Homo sapiens: one gene and its partner. The protein of the gene in region 1 purifies or fractionates together with the protein of each later gene. This does not show direct contact. Each region holds a gene or a part of one and is shown on either strand. Other genes may lie near its edges.

Region 1 (9,969 bases):
AAATTTGTCCTATTTTCTGGAAGACCCAGAACCCCATCAAACACCAAGAACAGATATCCCCACTCCTAAGAAACATTATAGGAATAGTTCAGATTTTCTTCTGTTAAATGTCATCCATCAGCTCACCCGATTTTTTCCAGCAGACCTCCTCTTCTATCTTGTGTGTTGCTTTATATGTCGCTCTTGACAGCTGCTACTATTTATGCATGCATTTCTATAGCAAAACCTTGATTAACTGGGACACAGCAAACTGTAGCACTTAAATGACTATGGTTTTCCCCTATGGACATCATTTGGAGGAGAGAGGGAAGTGACAACTAAAGTTTTGAGAACTGAAGAGAATCATGTAATTCCACATCTTCGATTTTACTGCTGAGAGAAGGAGAATGGATCAAGGCCACCCTGCTGATTAAGAGCAGAGTCAGGAGAGGATTCTCGGTCTATTTTGCTTTCTTCTGGACTGTGGCCTAAAGATGTGTCTTTTGGCATCTCTCTTGGGGGTATTTCTCCTTAAGGTTTTGCCACTACACTGCAGGTCTCAAACTCAAATGCCTGCAAGGGCTAACTGGTAATAGGAATGAGTGGAGGAGGCTGAGTATTCTACATTGGGAAGTAGTAGTGAACTATGGTCCTCAGACTGGAGCCTATATACCCTCTGTAAAGGCATCTAAACTAAAATGTTTTTCATTTTAAGAAGTACAGGACCGACAAAACACATCTGGGAGTCAGAGATGGCTTGATGTTCCCCAGTTGAAGTGCCTTGCACTATGTATATCTATAGGCCTTATTCAATAAGGAGATAATCTGGATTATGGCCCTCAGGCACATTGCCAAAGTAAGTTTCAATACTGTGCATTGATTTATGTTTGTTAAAACAGAAAATTGAAGAGACGCATTTTAGAAACCTGATCATAATATATTTTGTAACAGAGAGAACAGAGTAGAAGCTCTGGCTTCATTTACTGTCTGCTTAGCCAAAACTCTTTGTGGTCCAATTAGCCAAATGAATTCAGATGTCACAGTGTATAGGACATTCATAATTGGGAACACTAGGACCTCTTAGTACCAGAGATTGTCCCATAACATAGACATTCAAAAACATTTATAATCAGGACACACAGTGAGAAATACATTTATATCATTACTGAGCAGAAACATACACACACTCATACATATCACACAAACCCAAAACAATATTTTAAGAAACAATATCTTACTGCGTTCCAAACTCTGATGTTTTCCAACCTATTTCATTTTTATGAAAATACTTTATAATTTACTCATCGGCTACAGCATATAGTTTAAATCACTGGACTAGGTAATGCCATGACATTTTTGTTTATTCATTAATTCAGTAGATATTTACTCAATATCTAATGAGAGCGAGGTGCTCTTTGGAGTGTCATGGGGGACACAAACATGAACAAAACATGGATTTTTGCCCTCAAAGAGTCCAAATCCAATAGGAAATACATACACGTGAATATTTAAAAACTCAGGGCAAAACAATCAGTTCACATTTGACAAACTGCTTTTATGTTATCATAGTCATAATGATAACAAATCTCTTAGGTAAGCTGGGCAGATTTAAACTTAATTTTACAGATGGGAAGTTGCATTTTTGAAAAAGTGACATTTTAAAAAGAAGTGGAATGATAGTAATAATAGATAGCATATGTTAAGCACTTATTATATGTTAGGAACTAATTTACTTCTTACTATAACCTTATTATGATGGCATTACTATAATCCTCACTTTACAGAGGAGAAAAATGAGGCAGAGAGGTTAAGTAACTTGCCCAAAGTCATAGAGCCAGGAGTCATTGGAACTAAGAATCAATCATAGGCAACTTCAATTTTTTTTTTTTTTTTTTTGAGACAGAGTCTCGCTTTGTTGGCTCACTGCAAGCTCCACCTCCTGGGTTCAAGCGATTCTCCTGCCTCAGCCTCCTGAGTAGCTGGGACTACAGGTGCCTGCCACCACGCCTGGTTATTTTTTTGGATTTTTAGTAGATACAGGGTTTCACCGTGTTAGCCAGGATGGTCTCAATCTCCTGACCTCGTGATCCGCCCACCTCAGCCTCCCAAAGTGCCAGGACCACAGGTGTGAGCCACCACACCTGGCTGGCAACTTCAATTTTAATCAATGTATTATATTCTCTGGAAATGAAAATCACAGATCAAAATCCTACATAGGTCATGGCATACATACCTTGATCTCTTAGCCCACCCCAAAAGTGATGTGGCATCTGCTGTGACAGGATAGCATTTGGAATGAGGTGTGTATGAAGGGGATGGGGTGGAATAGAGCCTGGTTCCTCAGTATTCCTCAGTGTCACTAATCTTCATCAAGTTAATAAAGCACCTGAAGGCAGCAAGAGAAAAGACAAAGGGAATGATTGCTGTCCCCAGAAGAGGGCATCTTATCCTTTGCCGTTGTCTCATGTATGATGTAGTATTTTTGAGATAAGTTATGAAGTAGTCTTGAGTTTGGAAAACCAAGAGTTAGGCTGTAAATGTTCACCTTGTGTTTGACCAGTGCCACCTCCCTTAAGCCCAAATTCTCATTCAAAGTTACAAAGACAATTTTCCATTAGGATATCCCTGGAAAAAATAATATTTAGCCTTTATTGAGCTTTTCCCATTTGAAAAACTAAGACTGCCAGGCGCTGAGCTTAAAGCTGCACCCAAGACAGACCAATAATGGTAATAGAGAACAATTGTTAAGTACTACTCTCTCTCTCAATCTGTTTCTCTCTCTCTCTCTCTCTCTCTCTCTCTCTCTCTCTCTCTCTCTCTATATATATATATATATATATATGTTAGGTACTAATCTAATTCTTCTATATAATGATGGTACTCATATTATGCTTGTTTTATAGAGTAGAACAGTGAGATATTCATTGATAAGTATATGAATTTGATCTTTAGCACAGTAAAGAAAATTTTAATGTTGAAATTGGTGCATATCCAAATTTAGGCCCAAGCCCTAGTTTTTAGGCTGTTGTAAATTAACCTAGTTATTGTATTTTCCTGCCTTAATATGCTTCTTATATCTTCAATTTTATAGGATTATTAATAGTTATCCTGATTGACTTTATTTATATTAAGTATAAAGATAAAATTCTTATAGCCCATTCAGATTTTTCTTTACACTTGCAAACTCCAGAGATAGATATTGAAAAATACAAAGGCATATGTCTCATCTATAATTTCTTTCAGCAATATGTCTGCAAGTTGAGCAAAAATAACTGAAAGTGCTCTTTTTGAAAATAATAATTTTCACTTTTCAAAAATGATCCTGTATTTATTTATTTATTTTTTGAGACAGGGTCTCAGTCTGTCACTGAGGCTGGTTCTAAATTCTATTAATCCAATGATTATAGTCCAGCATTTGTCAGGGCACATGATGAACACTAGGTATTTACTGTCCCTGTGTGTCTGTAATGAATTAAAAGAAAAAGTACAGAGAAAGATTATTTAAGATGTTATGGGAAAAGATTTACTAGACTTCACAGAATTATTACTTTAGTCAAGTAACTAAAATAATTCAATCTGACAGATTTGGAAAATTGAAAGTATAAAAATTTGTTTTAAAATTTTTATTGCAGTTTTTCCTGCCACCATTCAGATTGTTTGATCTTGTTATAAATGAGCATTAACTCTGATTTGCAATTCAGGTCACACCATACCTCATCAAAGAATGCAGTTGGGAAAGCAACTGGCCAGGAAGTTTAGGTTTCCCCAGAAGGACTGGAAGGATTTAGAAAACATTTCTTTGGACTTCTTCTGGTTGATGCTCTTCCTACAAGAATCTGTGTTTGGGTGATCCTTGTACAGGAAAATGTCTCTTAGTCCAATTTATTTTATGTAGAACTGTGTAGAGCTAGAGCTTCCCGGAAACTTTCTGAGACCCAAATCATCTGGACTGAAGTCTCTTAGATGCTATTGTTTGATTTTGTGTCCTTAGGTGATTGATATAAGGACAGCAAGAGAAAACCATGTAAGATGAGAAGAAAGCAAAGCTGGCTTTGTGTATGGGCTCAAGTACATTTTACATGCACGTACTTTTTTCCTGTTTTGGTGAGGAAACTCTGTCAAATGACTCTTGACGGGCGCCTCACTTAGTCCCTCCAAGTTTTAGTAGAGAAAATGATAATTTTTAACCAAGACTTACTTGATCTTGACCTAAGATGATGAGAATGAGCAATCCTTCTGAAATCTTATTATTTTAGGTGAAAATAAACATTCGATAATTACATTTTAAGACTTACCAGAGTTTATCCAGGTTTTGTTCAGATCCAGAACTTATACAATGTCGGAGTCTTCTTTTAAGAATACACGATGACAGATACAAAATTAGGTACACAGCTTAATTAACTTCATGATAAATTCTCTTCTGATTATGAGTTACTGCTTTCTTTGGCCAGAATTGTGAAAGAAAAATAAGGCGTGAGGCTAGAGGATGGGGAAAAAAAATCCTTGTCTATCTTGCTTCCCAAGCAGGCCTTCAAGCTAGCTAACTGAAACAGTCTTTTCTCCAGGTCCTAAGGTAAATGGTGGCGGATCTGAAAATGCGTCGGACTTAACCTTGCCCTTCTCCCCAGTTTATTCGCTCAACAAAGAGTTCTAAACAGTCACATCTGCTCTCTAGGCAGAACGGACGCTGCCTCCTAGTATTAGAATACCCAACTCTTTGATATCTCCCTTAGGGATCATCCCTATTCTGGAGAATGTGCAAAATATTGCTCTTCCTTTATATCCTAGCATAGATATATTCTGGCACTTAACATGCATTCTTTTTCTGTTGAATTGAGTTACAAGTCAGTTCTCTAGGACGGTTACCGTCCTGGTGGCTTTGGCGGAATCTTCCGGTGAAAATAGGCTAAGTTGCATGAAATGGGTGTGTCTGGATTTTACCACAAGACCCCTGGTCCTCAAAGCTTCGCAGGCCGAGATACCTCGCCCCTTTCTTCTCTGTCACACGCGTGCGAACACACCCTCCCAACCCACGTCGTAGTAGTCCCCTCCCCCGACCACCCCGCCCCGTTTCCCTTCAACCCCCCTCCTCACGAACCTCCCCTCCCTTCCTACCTCCCTTTCCTTCCCTCCCCGCGGGCCAGCGGCTTTGGCGCTGCCCTGCTGCGCGGCGGGGCGACGCGGCGACACCTATAGGATTGCTTCCGGGCACTCCTCAGCCAGGAGGTGCTGGCCTGGGGCCCGGAGCTCGGCAGGGCCGGGCGGCTCCGCGGCGTTGGCCCAGAGGACGCGCGCCCCCGCCCGGCCGCGTCTCCTTCCCTCCCTCCCTCCTCCCGGCGCCCCGAGCCGAGCTCAGCCCAGGGCGGCGGCTTCGCCTCGCCCGGCGAAGCTTCTCTCCGGTGGCCGCTCCTTCTTTTCCCTCCTCTTTGCGTCATGTCGGGCACTTAATTTTTTTTTTTTTTTAATTCCTTCTTCAGCCCTTTCCACCTTCCATCTCCCTTTTCGCTTCCCAGGTTGATTATTTTCTCTTTTCTCCGGGCTTGCCCATGAGCCTCCTCGGGAGCTACCGGAAAAAGACCAGCAACGATGGTTATGAATCTTTGCAGCTGGTGGACAGTAACGGGGACTTAAGTGCGGGAAGCGGCGGGGTTGGCGGCAAGCAGAGAGTGAACGCCGGGGCAGCGGCGCGGAGTCCCGCCCGACAGCCTCCGGACCGCGCCAGCACCATGGACAGCTCAGGTAGCGCTGCCCGAGGGGAGTGCAGCGCTGAGCCCCGCGCGGCCTCCGGAGCCTCCCAGTCGCCCGGCCCGAGGCCCCCCCGTGGTCCCCCAGCCCCGGTTTGCGAGAGAGCCGGGCTGGAGGCGAAGGCTTCTAATACCACCTGGGTGTCGAGTCTCTAATTTCTCTCATCCAGGGAGCTACGAAACGTTAGATCAGTCCTGAGGCCCAGAGACTGTAGCGAGCTCCTCCTAATCTCTCTAGACTGCTGAATACGGCAGCTGGGGGCGGGGAGGGGGAGGGAAGGAGGAGGGGAGGGGTGGAGAAGAGAGGGGAGCGGGTGGGGCGAAGAACGGCTTGGGAGGAGGGCTGGGAGAGGCAGCTGCTTTCACTGCCCAGCTGGATGAGGGGGAGAGGTGAAGGAGCATGTGCGTTGATTGTTTTTGCAGCATGCAGACGGTATTTATTCCAATTGTTATTCTTGCAATGCTGATGCTATTTGCAATTCTGTAAAGCTCTGCCACATCTTAACTCAGCCGTCTGCTAGGGTTAATGTTACCTTTCTCCTGCAGTTTTTAACCTGGGATCTAGAGCTCTTTTACACAGCTTTTACTGTTTGCACAATGAAATTTATTTCATGTGTTGGCTTTGATCTTGTTTGTCCTTTTGCTTGAGTGTACAGATTTCATAAACCTTTACATGTAGGGACAAGGAAATTCCTCTAAACTTTGTATCGGGGCTTGCAACTGTCTTTTATAAAAGGTTTGGCAAGTTAGAGTCCTCTCTTGGAACTGCTGTTGGCATTTGCGATTTCAATAGCAAAACAGTCATTTAATATATCCATGTTGGACTAGGAGTATTATTATAGCTATTTGCTTACTTCTGCAGGGAACCAGGTTCGGAGAATTGTTTACAGAGATATTTATAATTGAAGTCCTCAGTGGTTGGTTCTACACTGGTAACTTTAATACTGGACAACTGAGGATTCCAGAGGAAAGATTCATATGGGGTCGTTTGAACAGTAATGAAATCAAACTGAATTTAAATGCCCTGCTTTGCAAACAAATGCTTGTTTATTTTAATTGTGTAATGGCTGTCCTTGGGCTATTATTTTCTATTTTCCTTGTCCCAAAGTGGGATGAAATATTGTCCACAGATGCTCAAATGTCCTGGGCTGAAAACAAATTCTACTCATTGAAGCTCTTATTGAAGTTAACCAAGATATTGATGGGACATTCTCTTAGACCATTTTAAATAAAACTAAAATGATCCCCAAGGGATTGATGGTTTCAGGACTGTTTTTTTTTTTTTTTTTTTTTTTTTTTGAGGCGGAGTCTCACTCTGTTGCCCGGGCTGGAGTGCAGGGATGCGAACTCGGCGGACTGCAAACTCCGTTTCCCGGGTTCAAGCGATTCTCCTGCCTCAGCCTCCTGAGTAGCTGGGATTACAGGCACCTGTCACCATGCCCGGCTAATTTTTGTACTTTTAGTAGAGACGGGGTTTTGCCATGTTGGCCGGGCTGGTCTTGAACTCCTGACCTCAGGTGATCTGCCTGCCTCGGCCTCCCAAAGTGCTGGGATTACAGGCATGAGCCACCGCGCCCAGGCAGGACTTTTTTATTGATGTTGTATGTGGTTATTCAATGTATGTTTTTTCAAATCTGTGATATATCAAAGTGTAATCCATCTTTTGACTGGATGTAATCTCCTTTAAATCTTAAAAAGATTCATGTTCTCTGAATGATGCCACCATAATAATGTTTACATGTAGTGAGCATGTAAACAATTGAAATGAAAACAAACATATTCCAAATGAGTGTGAAGGAGCCTCACTTCAGGAAAATGAAAGAAATATGAAATACATATGTTTTCCTTTTTCATAGGGATTATTATTTTAAGAGTTGAAATTGGTTTTTGAAATATGTTACATTGTAGAATAAGTTCAACATACATTTTCTGAGCCCAGCTATGTGCCAAGCACTGTGAGGGAACACAGTAGTGAATGAGATCCTTCTGGCCTCTAGGGGACTCTCAGTGGGGGCAGTAACTATAACACAGAGCAGCCTATGGTAAGTCCTGGATTTTTGAGGATTGTCTTTTTCACTAAATCAGACTTTTTTAATAGGTGGAGAGAAGAATAATGGATTGCTTTAATAATCTGTTGTGATGGGAAAGTGTTTCATTAAGAATATTGTTATCTCTAAAGTGCTATTGCCAGGAGTTGATTCTTAAACTTGATCAAAGTGGTGTTGTGTGAAGAGGCTGCAGGGATTCCTTTTCTCCTCCCCTTATCCATCATTCACTCCTATATTTTATTAGGGGAATATTGTGGCTTTGTTGTAGAAGTACAGGGTATCTTACAATGATTTTGATGCATATTTTCAACTGAGAATGATTTGTTTGGTTTGAATGAAGGATTGGACTCTGAGAGTAGGATTCTTTTACTAGTACAACTATATGTCTTGCCTAATTATAGTTCTTTCTTCTAAGATCCTCAAAGTGTGGCCTGTGCAGTGTAAATATATCCATTTGTTTAGTATATCTAATTAAGTTCATGGATCATTTCTAAAGTGGCAGTAATCTGCCCATTTATTCAACTGATTGTACTGTGACATGCTGGATAGGATCAGTGGTTTATGGGACTTTTGCTCTGATAGAAATATTAATGAGTGGAAAAAATATGTTGACATCTCGCTACATGATTTAAAGCTTAGTCTTAATAATACCTTAAACTTGTAAGACTGTTTATAATAGAACACTTGGACAATTCTCTTATTTCATTTCCCCAGAATTTTATTAAATAGGTTGGGGAAGCAGCATGTGTCTGTGCTTGGAGACTTGGGATCAAACCTCTGCATTATTGTTACTCGCTGAAAAACCTAGTAACCTTTTTCTTTTCTTTTCTAGACAGATAGCTCTGTCACCCAGGCTGGAGTGCAGTGGTGCGATCTCAGCTCATTGCAACCTCCACCTCCCGGGTTCAGACAATTCTTGTGTTTCAGCCCCTCAAGTAGCTGGGATTACAGGCGTGCACCACCACACCCGGCTAATTTTTGTATTTTTAGTAGAGACGGGCTCTTGCCATGTTGGCCAGGCTGGTCTCGGACTCCTGGTCTCAAGTGATCTGCCCGCCTTGACATCCCAAAGTGCTGTGATTACAGGGTCTTGCTCCATTGCCCAGGCTGGAGTGCAGTGGTGTGATCATGGCTCACTGCAGTCTGGACCTCCTGGGCTCAAATGACCCTCCTGCCTCAGCCTCTTGAGTAGCTGGGACTACAGGTATGAACCACCATGCCTGGCTAATTTTTTTTTTTTTTTTCTTTGTAGAGATGGGGTTTTTTGCCATGTTGCCCAGGCTGGTCTCAAACTCCTGGGCTCAAGCGATCTGACCACCTCGGCCTCCCTCCCAAAGTGCTCGGATTACAGACATGAACCACCATGCTTGGCCTGTTCCCATTTATAAAAGTGGAATCATAAGAGCTGTTCTTACCACAGAGCTTTAGTTGAGGCTGAAAACAATATAAAAATACATTTGCAGTTTTTCTTTACTTTGTATCTTGCCCTTTCAATTTATCATATGAAGAAACTTATTCTCAGAGGTGGTAGGAGACCTATCAAAGGTAGAATAGATAATGACAGCCAGACTTAGGTCTTCTGACTCAAAGGTTTGAGTTTTTCCCCATTGAACTAAACTTTTGGGTAGACACAATATCAACTGATTGTTGAAATGGAAACATTTTTATCTACTTTGATTTCCCCCCTGTTTTTAGATAAAAGAGGGGTACATGTTCAGAGGAATGTAATGGCTTTCTAAGTCAACAGCCTCTCAAGTGGTAGATACCAGAGCAGTCTCCTAGCCAGATGTGACTTCCAGAGCTCTCTGCCTTCCCTGGCTCACTTTCTCTTCATTCAAATTATTCTCTAGAAAAGGTTGTCATTTAAAGGTCATCCTGTCATATCTCAAAGGCACTGCACTATCCCAATGCCGAAAACCCCCTATTTCTCTTGTGTGCACCCCACTTTTCAGGGAAAGTAGAACCACAAAAGTAGAACTTTCAATATTGAGCTGCTAAAGTGTTCCAATATTGGGCTTAATTTACCAAGTTCATAATGACAAACTGAAAAAGAGTAGTCCAATTAAAATCTGGAAACAGATATTAATACTTTTTAAAGAATAAGTATAATGATAGGTAAGGATTTCTCTTTTGATTCTCACTTTTTAGGCTTTGTTCTATATATTTAAATATATAGAAATTCACATATATAAATAAAC
Region 2 (9,822 bases), on another chromosome or scaffold:
TCAGCTAAGGAATGGTAAGAGTCACAATTTCAGCTGAAGTCTGCCTTGCTTCAAAGTCACTACCCATCCCCATCAGCCACATTGCTTTCTAAACATTTAATGTGCGTGGCCATCTAGCCACACAGCCTGGCCTTTGATAAAGAGATGTGTACGTGGAGTGTCACCTGTTGGTTCATGATCAGGGGAGACTTGTGTCTGTACATGGTGGATTGGAGAAGTATGCAGAGTGTGAGGATATAATCCACATTGTGGCCTTTTCTTTGTTTTTTCTTTTTCTTTTTTTAATCAGCTGACTTTAAGATTCATCTTTTCTCAACTTTACAGAACAATTGAAAGGAGGAAAATAAACATGTGCACCCCCAGATTCAGTAATTAATGGATTATCTTTATATAAATGATATGTTTTAGACATACACACACACAAATTGTTTTGGCTGACCTACTTTAAGATAAAGACATCATATACTTTGTGTCTAAATATTTCAATGTACACCTCCTAGAAATAATGACATTCTCCTATGTAACCACAACGTCAGCAGTATTATTCCCTCTTGGGAACTGTTGAACTAGTGAAAACATGAGTCCTTATTTTTCAGATGGGATAACTGACACCCAGAAATAGGAAGGGACATGACCCAGATGACACAGCCAATTAGTGCCAAATCATTTATCTCTCTAGTCCAATTTAGGTGGCTTTCAGAACAAAGAATGCACTTAGTATTTGAACCTTTATAGCACCATTCATTAGTGATTTCTTTGGTGGAAATATTCTGTATCTGTGCTGTCTCGTATGGTAGCCACTAACCACATGTAACTGTTAAGTACTTGAAGTGTGGCTTCACAATTCAAGTGTGACTGAGAAACTGAATTTTAAATTTTCTTTAATTTTAATAAATTTACATTGAAGTAGCCACATGTAGCTAGTAGCTACCATATTGGACAGTGGAGCTGTAGGAAGATGAAAATAGGTCCTAACAGCTTTGGTCCTTGCTTGTTCTTTGTGTCTCTTGAGTATGCTTAGAGGCAAGATTTAGCTGGTCTTAGTACTGCTGTAGTATTTTTCATGTTACAGAACCCAAATTTATCTTTTCTGTTTTACCAAGCTCTAGCAGTTTTTCTTCTCCATGGAGAGAGTCTACTTTGGTGTCTGGAAAGATTTAATTTTTCAATTATGAAATTGGGTACTTGGGGAATACTCTTATGAGCTGTTTTCTTAATTCAAAGTGCTTTTTTTGAGAGAAGTACAACATTTGGCCTTGCATTCCAACTGAATTGAATTCACTTGGTTCATGAACAAGGTGTTCCTTCAATTTCACCTTTTTTCCTTGCAAAAACTGTGAGAAAGCACGCGATGCTAAAAATAGAGAACCGGTGCCAGTGGTTTTCAGCCTAGCTGCTGGCTACATTCTCAAGTAATTTTCTTTTCTCTGACCAGTAACGAGGGTGGCCAGAAGGGAAGGCACCTGTGAATGTGCTTTGCTCTCTAAGGGGACTCTTCCTCTTCATCCTCTGAGGGGAAGAATTCTAAATTAGTATTGCAGTGGCACTAAAGCTGCAAAAGCCAGAAGACCAATTTAAATGTACTATTTTATGCAGTAACCACAGTCTGTTCAGGAGGTCACCATTTTTATTTAATTTCATTTTTCAGAGATAAATTTTATATTTTAGTCCTAATGTATAGTAAATGTTAACATCAAAATACATTGAAAGAAAATACTGTCCAATCAAAAAGGTAATTATTTGGAAGTAATTTCACCATGATTGAAAAGGGGGCCTTACATTTTGAATTAGGTATTGTCACATGGCACTTCCAGCCCACAGCTTCTCATTGCAGCATAGCTAAATCTTGCATTCCACATCTGTACTTCATGCCATGGATAGACACATATTAGATGTTTACTGTAGAGGCTAGGTGGTGTGGCTCAGGTCTGTAATCCCAGCACTTTAGGAGGCTGAGGTGGGAGGATCACTTGAGCTCAGGAGTTCAAGACCAGCCTGGGCACCATAGTGAGACCCTATCTCTACTAAAAAAAAAAAATTAGCTGGGGGTTGTGGTGCACGCTTGTGGTCCCAGCTGCTTAGGAGATTGAGGTGGGAGGATCACTTGAGCCTGGGAGATTGAGGCTGCAGTGAGCTGTGATAGAACTACTGCAGTACAGCCTGGGCTACAGAGCGAGACCCTATCTCAAATAAAACAAAAAAAAGTTTACTGTATATACTTTAGAGTCATCAGTGAAAAATCTGAGAAAATGATTCTTCTGAACGACAGATCACCTTCCGACAAATTAGATACCGAGATGAACGTTCCTACTAACCTGAAACTTGGGGGAGTTTCTAGCTGCTATTAGGCTTTTTCTTATAGTTACACACAGCCTTTTGCAGGTTGTTACTATAAGACCTTTCTTGCAAAGGCCCTAAAAATGCCCAAGAATACTTCATTTTTCATCCCTTCTAGTAGTTACTTGACACCGCTACTGCTATCTACTCTCCTTCTCAAAGACACTAATTACAGTTTGGGCTCTTGGTCTGCACTTTCAAAACTCTGTCCAGATCACTGGTGGTCACGTTTTGTGATTATTTCTAGGCTTGCCTCCCTTTCTGTCCCTCCCTTTGGAGGAAGCATAATGAGGTAAGCAAAGTGTAAGCTTTACAGCCAGATCTGGGTTTGAATCTTGGCTCTGTCACTTACTATAACCTTTAGGAAATTCACTCAAACTTTCTGAGCTTTAGTTTTTCTCACTGCTGAAAATGTGATCAGAGTTTACCTTCTTGGGATTGTTGTAAAGATTGAGTTAGATGTCTATAAAACACCTGCCAGACAGAAGAACTTGTTTAAAGTGAAGTATCAGGTTAACTTCAAGTGTCAGCTGCCTCAGTAGCTATGACATGTATTTCTTTTTTTTTTTTTTCTTTTTTGAGACAGAGTCTCACTTTGTTGCCTAGGCTGGAGTGCAGTGGTGCGATCTCAGCTCACTGCAACCTCTGCCTCCCAGATTCAAGCGATTCTCCTGCCTCAGCCTCCCCAGTAATCCCCAGTAGCTGGGATTATAGGCATGCACCACCACATCCAGCTAATTTTTTGTATTTTTAGTAGAGACGGGATTTTACCATGTTGGCCAGGCTGGTCTCGAACTCCTAACCTCAGATGATCCACCTGCCTCGGCCTCCCAAAGTGTTGGGATTACAGGCGTGAGCCACCACAAGCAGCCGGCATGTATTTCTTTATCTCTCACTATCTACTGATGTATGTCTCTTCAGCTTAGTGTCTTAGAGAAAACCATATTTAGTCCTCAGAAACTTCATGTTTCATGTTTGAGAATCCAATCTAGCAAACCTGCTAGGTATGCATTTTCTTGCTGTCATTTCTAGAACCTTTAGGTTAACTGTTAGCAATGATCCCATACCTCTACCCCCTGCACTTCTCTCCAGTGGAGTTTCTTTTGTAGCTCTGCCCTGGCTCTGCCACAAACACACTGCAGACCAAGTAGGAGTAGATGCTTTGTGGTCCTCTCTAGTGCTAATATTCTGTGTTCTATCATTCTCTGGTTCCTGAATCATCTCTACCTTTGGTAATTGTCCTAATAGCACCCTGCCTCACAGAAGTGCTTCTACCATATTTAGTTATGAGAGTGCCACCTTGTGTTCCACAAAACCATTGTCAAACCTGGAATATGGACTAGTTTGGGAGAAGAGGTAAAAGATTAAGATGAATACCCTACTATGAACTAATATTGGCAGCATTGGTAAAGAATCATCTATAATTGTTTCTCCCCCAATTGGTGCCCAGAAGGCTTTTTTCCTATTAATAATAGAAGTCAGTATTTCCACATACACCCTTCTCTTTTGCTCTGCCCAAAACAAGACAAAACAAAACTAATGACCCACTAAGATGTCAGTGGACTGGGATAAGACCAGGAATAGGACTGTGGGAAAGACCAGGCAGGAATAGAAGCACTGAAATCAGAGTTGGTTGTGCAAACAGAGAAAACAGAAGTTTATCTTCCCCTCTCTACTCTTCTCCCCCAACAGGCACACAGACATGGACCTGCACCCACCACAAGTTCAGCAAGACCAAAATAAACTGATGAACTTCAGTTTGCACTTTGCCTCAATTGTATTGTCTTTCTCTTCTCTCCCTTCAAAGATGCCAATTCTCGGAAGCAAGAAGCAGAGTGGAAAGAAAAGGCAATAAAGGAGCTAGAAGAATGGTATGCAAGACAGGACGAGCAGCTACAGAAAACAAAAGCAAACAACAGGTCAGTCCGTGGTGGTTGTAGCACACTTTGTTTTCCAAAATTGAATCAAATCCATTCTCAGCATCCAGTCTCGGTTTTTGGCTTCTGCCTCCTTTAGTGTGAAATGTCTGCAGTTTTTAAAGAAAGTGCTTGAAACAGGTTGCAAGTCTCTCGGGTCTTGTGAGCATAATTCACCCTATTGTTTAGCCATCCCAATTGTAGTGAGCTTAGCTCTCTGAGAGTTTGGTTAATATGCATAACCTGTAATGGTGTGATTCAGCCAAGGGAAAAGTTACTTTCCATGGAACCCTGAAACGAAAGCTGGGTGTCATGAATACACCCAGATCTAGTTACTTTGGATATGATTATAGACTTGGTCATGTTGAGTCTCCTCAATATAGCCCTGCCCCCTGAAAGCCACTTCATGAAGGGGTCCGTTGGCAGGAATATGTGCTTTGTAATTAGGCAGCCAAGGATGTTCCAACATGATTATTTTAGAATTGAGGGTTCTGTGGGTACTTATTTGTGCCTTAAAAAGTCTTGAATTGACTTCTTAAAAATGTTCTGTTTGAAATAGATTTTATTTAGTTACTGATGGTTAAGGAGTTGTGAGGAGAAAAACGCTTTCATTCTCATATCACTACTCACCAGCAGCTGGGCTTTAATGCCCTACACTTAGAGCCCTTCTTGGAAGCAGCAAAGAGAGGATATGTGGTGTTGCTTCCCTCAGGGCAGGCAGGTTCAGAGCCCAACTTTCACTGAATAGTCAATCCATTCACTTCAGTGTATAAACGGGCCAGACCGAGCCTGGGGATATTTTTAATTTTCAGGGTAGAGCCTTGGGTTCTCGTATGCAGAGGCAGGAAGCAGGTTGGGTTAAGTGCCCTTGTCTCTGGCAGCTCTGTTAGACAGAGATGTGGCAGGAGAGAGAGCTAACGGCTTTGCCAGCCAGCCAGTGCTATTGTGGGTCCAGTATGACAGAGCAGTTGGACTCTCTTTTATATGCTAGCAGCCCTTCAGCTCATTGGATTCCGGCTTGAGCCTGTGTCCTGGTCACTTTCCTCTGGGGGCGGTGTGCTCAAGGAGTGCCTGTCAGGTTCCATGTGGAGTCCACAGGACTCCACAGTCCCAGTCCCACAGGACTGCTCTCTGGTGTGCAGGCTGGGTTGCCAGTGGTGATGGCTTCCATCAGCTACGTGGGGCTGTTGTTGAGCCTGTGGTCAGTAGGTGGTGCTGACAGGTCCAGGCTCCTGTGTCCTCTGCTCCCTCAAGATGATTTTCTCCCAGGTGGAAGTTCAGATCGGTAAAGCCGAGTGGGGACTGTGTGCAAGCACCCTGCGAGCCCTGAGAACTCCCCCAGCCTGCGACCCCAGCATTTAAGTTTAGTCTGAAGTACTGTAGCTGTGCCGACCCTCCCCGCTCTGGGTCTGTGATGCGTCAATAACTTAACACAAGTTTTCAAACTTAGATAATGAATATGTTGGTAACAGCCTTTCTGTTGCAGAAATTTTTTTCAAGGAAGTTTTGCTGAACTGTCAAGAAAGGGATATTCTCTGTATACAGAATCCGTTGTTCTCAGAGGGAGTAATGACACCTGTTTTTTTTTTTTTTTTTTTTTTGAGATGGAGTCTTGCTCTGTTGCCCAGGCTGGAGTGCGGTGGTGCGATCTCGGCTCACTGCAAGCTCCACCTCCTGGATTCACGCCATTCTCCTGCCTCAGCCTCCCGAGTAGCTGGGACTACAGGTGCCCGCCACCATGCCCAGCTAATTTTTTTCTGTTTTTAGTAGAAACAAGGTTTCACTGTGTTAGCCAGGATGGTCTCGATCTCCTGACCTCGTGATCTGCCTTCCTTGGCCTCCCAAAGTGCTGGGATTACAGGCGTGAGCCACCGCGCCTGGCCATGACACCTGTTTTTAGGAGCTCAGTCTTAAAAGTTTAGTCCCTCCAGGCATTGAATTTGGGCCTTGGTACCTTTCTGTACTTGGAACTGTAGAATGCTGGGTAAGCTGGTCTCACAGATGAACCTCTTAAGTTCCAGAGAGAAGGAACTTCCCCACTGCTCACTGAGAATGTAGAGCTGCTTAGGAAGCAGGTCACTTGCCTTGTGGGAACCTTGCAGCACAGGGCTGACTCTTGAGAGCATAACGCTAGTGGCACACTAGCCATTGTCACCAGGGCTCTAGGACAGAAGAGATGGTTTTTACAGTTTATTCCAGTGATTCTTCACTGGTTGGAGGTGGGATCCATTTGAGAGTCACTTTGGGGGACTTCTTCCAAGGGTCTACACCCTCCCCTGGAGATTTTTATATTGCTGACTACTCCCCCTCTCCATCCATGTTTGACTCTAAACTTTAGAGTTCAAAGGAATAGGTCCCATTTAGATGTATAAAGTAATTCATCCTTGTTATCTGTCTATGGGTAAAGAGTGAATATTTTTAGAAAAGAAAATGGGGGCCGGACACCGTGACTCAACATCTGTAATTCCAGCACATTGGGAGGCTGAGGCGGGCAGATCACTTGAGGTCAGGAGTTTGAGACCAGCCTGCCCAACATGGTGAAACCCCATCTCTACTAAAAATGCGAAAATTAACTGGGTGTGGTGGTGTGTGCCTGTAATCCCAGCAACTCGGGAGTCTGAGGCAGGAGAATCACTAGAACCCGGGAGGCAGAGGTTGCAGTGAGCTGAGATTGCGCCACTGCACTCCAGCCTGGGCAACAGAGCGAGACTCAGTCTGAAAAAAAGAAAAGAAAAAAGAAAACGGGGTGCTCATTTCAAGCAAGTATGATTCTCTCTGGGTGACTTCTGCAGTAGCTAGATGTTAAGGGGACCCGAGAGATAAGGCAGAAAGATGAGAAGTTTGAAAGAGGAAAGTCGGAGACAGGAAGGGCATCCAGTTAATTGTGAGAGCATCCTCAGGCCTCCTGCCTTCCAGCTGCCTCACCACTGGGTCACCAAAGCACTAGGAGCACGTCGCGCCTGGCACTGCACTGGGGGTGGGTGTGCTGTACTCTATTGTCAGTCCCCAGACTGCATCTCCCTTCTTTTATCCCAAGTTGAGGCCTAAGTGTCACAGTACAAGAGCTGTGAATTATTCAGTGACAGCCATGGAAAAGAATTTCCTTTTCATAGCCAGCCAGCCAGAGCAGTGACTGACTCCTGCAGCTGGATGAGTTTGCTCATCAAGAACAACCCCAGAACATTTCCCCTATTACAGGTAGCACTTGTGCTTGTCAGCTCTTTCAAGGCTTGAGAAGGTTTGGGGAACCCACAGTTCTCAGAGATGGCAAACATTTTTTTCTGTGCCCACTTTGAGGCTGTTTATGGAATGAAGTTCTGCATTGTATTCGTGCCTCCAGAGCTTGTCCTAGGTCAGGTATTCCTCTTCCCTCCCCTCTCCTAAGCCTCCCTGAGCCCCTTCCTGCCTTGGCTGAGGATTGCTACTTTCAAGTGAAGGACAAATAAGGGGAGGGCCACCTGTGTGTGTGTCTGATTTTCTGTTTGTTCTGGGCCTGCAACCTTGACAGGGGATGTGCTTGTCACTGAGGAGCTCTTTGGTCTTGGGCTAGCTGCAAAGGAGCAAGAGCCTGACATTCAAACTTTTGTTGTCTTAGTGATGATTTGACAGGAGTCATGAAACCTCTACTCTTCTTGTGGAGGGAAACCCAAGTTGAAATCGATCAGGTTTAGTCCTTTGTGTAAACTAAAAGGGTTATGGGTTTATAAGCCAGCCTGCCTTGCCTTTTCCTCCCACTCATTCTGCCCACAAACAACTCTGTTTTCCTGCTGAGTCACTTTAAGTTATAATCAGCCTGCTCTTTTTGCTTTCTTTAAATTTCCACAAAACACCTCCTGTGTATAAAACAAAATGGGAAAGAAGGAAGGGCATGTGTGAGCTTAAAAATTAACTTAAAATTACTAGAATTTGCCTTCAAATAAGTATGTGAGGTTAGCTTAATGACCAGGCATGATTATCCTTGAAAAATGTCTTTCCCCTTGCCCACCCCAAATCGACTTGACAAAGGACAGGGTAAGACTCCATGAGGGAGGTTCCATGTCCAGCCACAGTGGAGAAGAGTGGGCTGGCAGAGCCCAGGGAGTCAGTCCAGGACAACAGAGTCAAAGCCAGCCTGGCCCCTGCTGTCAAAATTTATCCACCCAGTCTGCCCCCTCCTTCCTGTCTGAGAGCCCTGCCATGTTGAGAGTTAAGAAGGGATGAAGTTCTGGATTCTGGGCTGCACCTTATCAAAGCCAATTGAGTCTGGTGTAAAAATATTCAGAAACTGTACCCGCTTCTTGAGTAGAGAGAGAGCCATATTCAGGAACAACAGAAGCCAGGGCCAGGATCCTAGTCCAGTGTTCTTCCCACCAGACCACTCACCTCCAGCCGTTTTTTCCTGTAAGGTTGAGATTTTAAAATGACGATATGTGTTCCCAGGATTCTGGAAGTGTATCCCACCCAGACAGTGTGGGGAAGCAGTAGTTAGATAATCCAAGATAAAACTGGCTTTGGGTCCTAGCGCATCTGGTGTCTGGCAGCATTCCTGCCCAGTGCATTAACTGAAACAGGAAGGTGGCGTGGCTTTCTGGGCACATACAGCAGGGAAGAAGCATGACTATACAGTAGAAAGAGCCCTGGACTTAGGGCCAGGCTGCCTTGGTTGTGAGTCCTGAATGCTGCCACTGTGGTGTAGCTGAGCAAGTTGTTCATCTCTAAGCCTCAGTTACCTCATCTGTACAGTGGGGGTGAGAACAGTCAGGGTCATAGGTTGTTAACAGTTAAGGATTGAATCAACATAATGTATGTGAAAGGGCTTAGTCCATGATTGGGTGCTTAATAAATGCCCGTGTTGCTGGGGTGAGCCAAAGGGATGAAGTTGGCAGTGCTTGCTCTGTCGTGGAGCAGTCCCCACGTGGGAAGGCCAGCGGGAAACCAGGCCTGCTGAAGTCTCCAGCGCTGGAAGCCTCACGGGGGTTAGGAAGGAGCCTTGGGAGCAGCTCCTCAGAGCACAGTTGTACCTCAATTGTGGATTTTAGATGTTTCTGCTTCTCAATGTTCTCTCTTTTTTCCTGCCTGCTTGCCTGCCTTTTGGACCTCTTGCTGTCTAGGGTGGCAGATGAAGCTTTCTACAAACAACCCTTCGCTGACGTGATTGGTTATGTGTATGTTGCAAAACTAATTCCTTTTTCTACATCTGATTCTTTCTACTTTTGTTTAGAGTTAATGCTCCTTTTATGTCACAAGTTGCTTTGCTTTTTAAATTATTTCAAATTGGCACTTTGGGGGCTGCCTAAGAATTGATAAGCGGGGTATGATCTGTTGATGAATCTTCCAGATTTGTGACTCCCTGCATCCTCTGATGGCCATTTTTCATATTTGGGGTTTTGGAGGGAAGAAAGCTAACTCGCTTTCAAAATGTGTCATTTGCGATCTTATCTGGGAACGGTTTGAGGCTCGGGGGAACTCTGCTCTCTTGCTCTTGGCTGCCATCACTGCTGCCATGCCCTGTTGCCTGCCTGCCTCAGGTGGGAAGGAGGTTTCCCCACCTGGGAGCAGGTGGCAGTCCCAGGAGGTTAGGAGCCAGTGA

Evidence for each region.
Region 2: the proteins of DNAJC6 (region 1) and CLTA purify together in Homo sapiens (affinity purification with mass spectrometry; 2 studies listed by BioGRID and IntAct, with this or other methods). This does not show direct contact.

Annotation. Positions count from the first base shown.
Region 1 is NC_000001.11:65,304,221-65,314,189, forward strand, and holds the start of DNAJC6 (auxilin), read left to right. Parts: upstream 1-5,322; 5' UTR 5,323-5,525; coding exon 5,526-5,718; intron 5,719-7,023; exon of another isoform or gene 7,024-9,969. UniProt on the Homo sapiens protein: May act as a protein phosphatase and/or a lipid phosphatase.
Region 2 is NC_000009.12:36,199,924-36,209,745, forward strand, and holds part of CLTA (clathrin light chain A), read left to right. Parts: intron 1-4,144; coding exon 4,145-4,256; intron 4,257-4,797; exon of another isoform or gene 4,798-8,631; intron 8,632-9,343; coding exon of another isoform or gene 9,344-9,397; intron 9,398-9,822. UniProt on the Homo sapiens protein: Clathrin is the major protein of the polyhedral coat of coated pits and vesicles.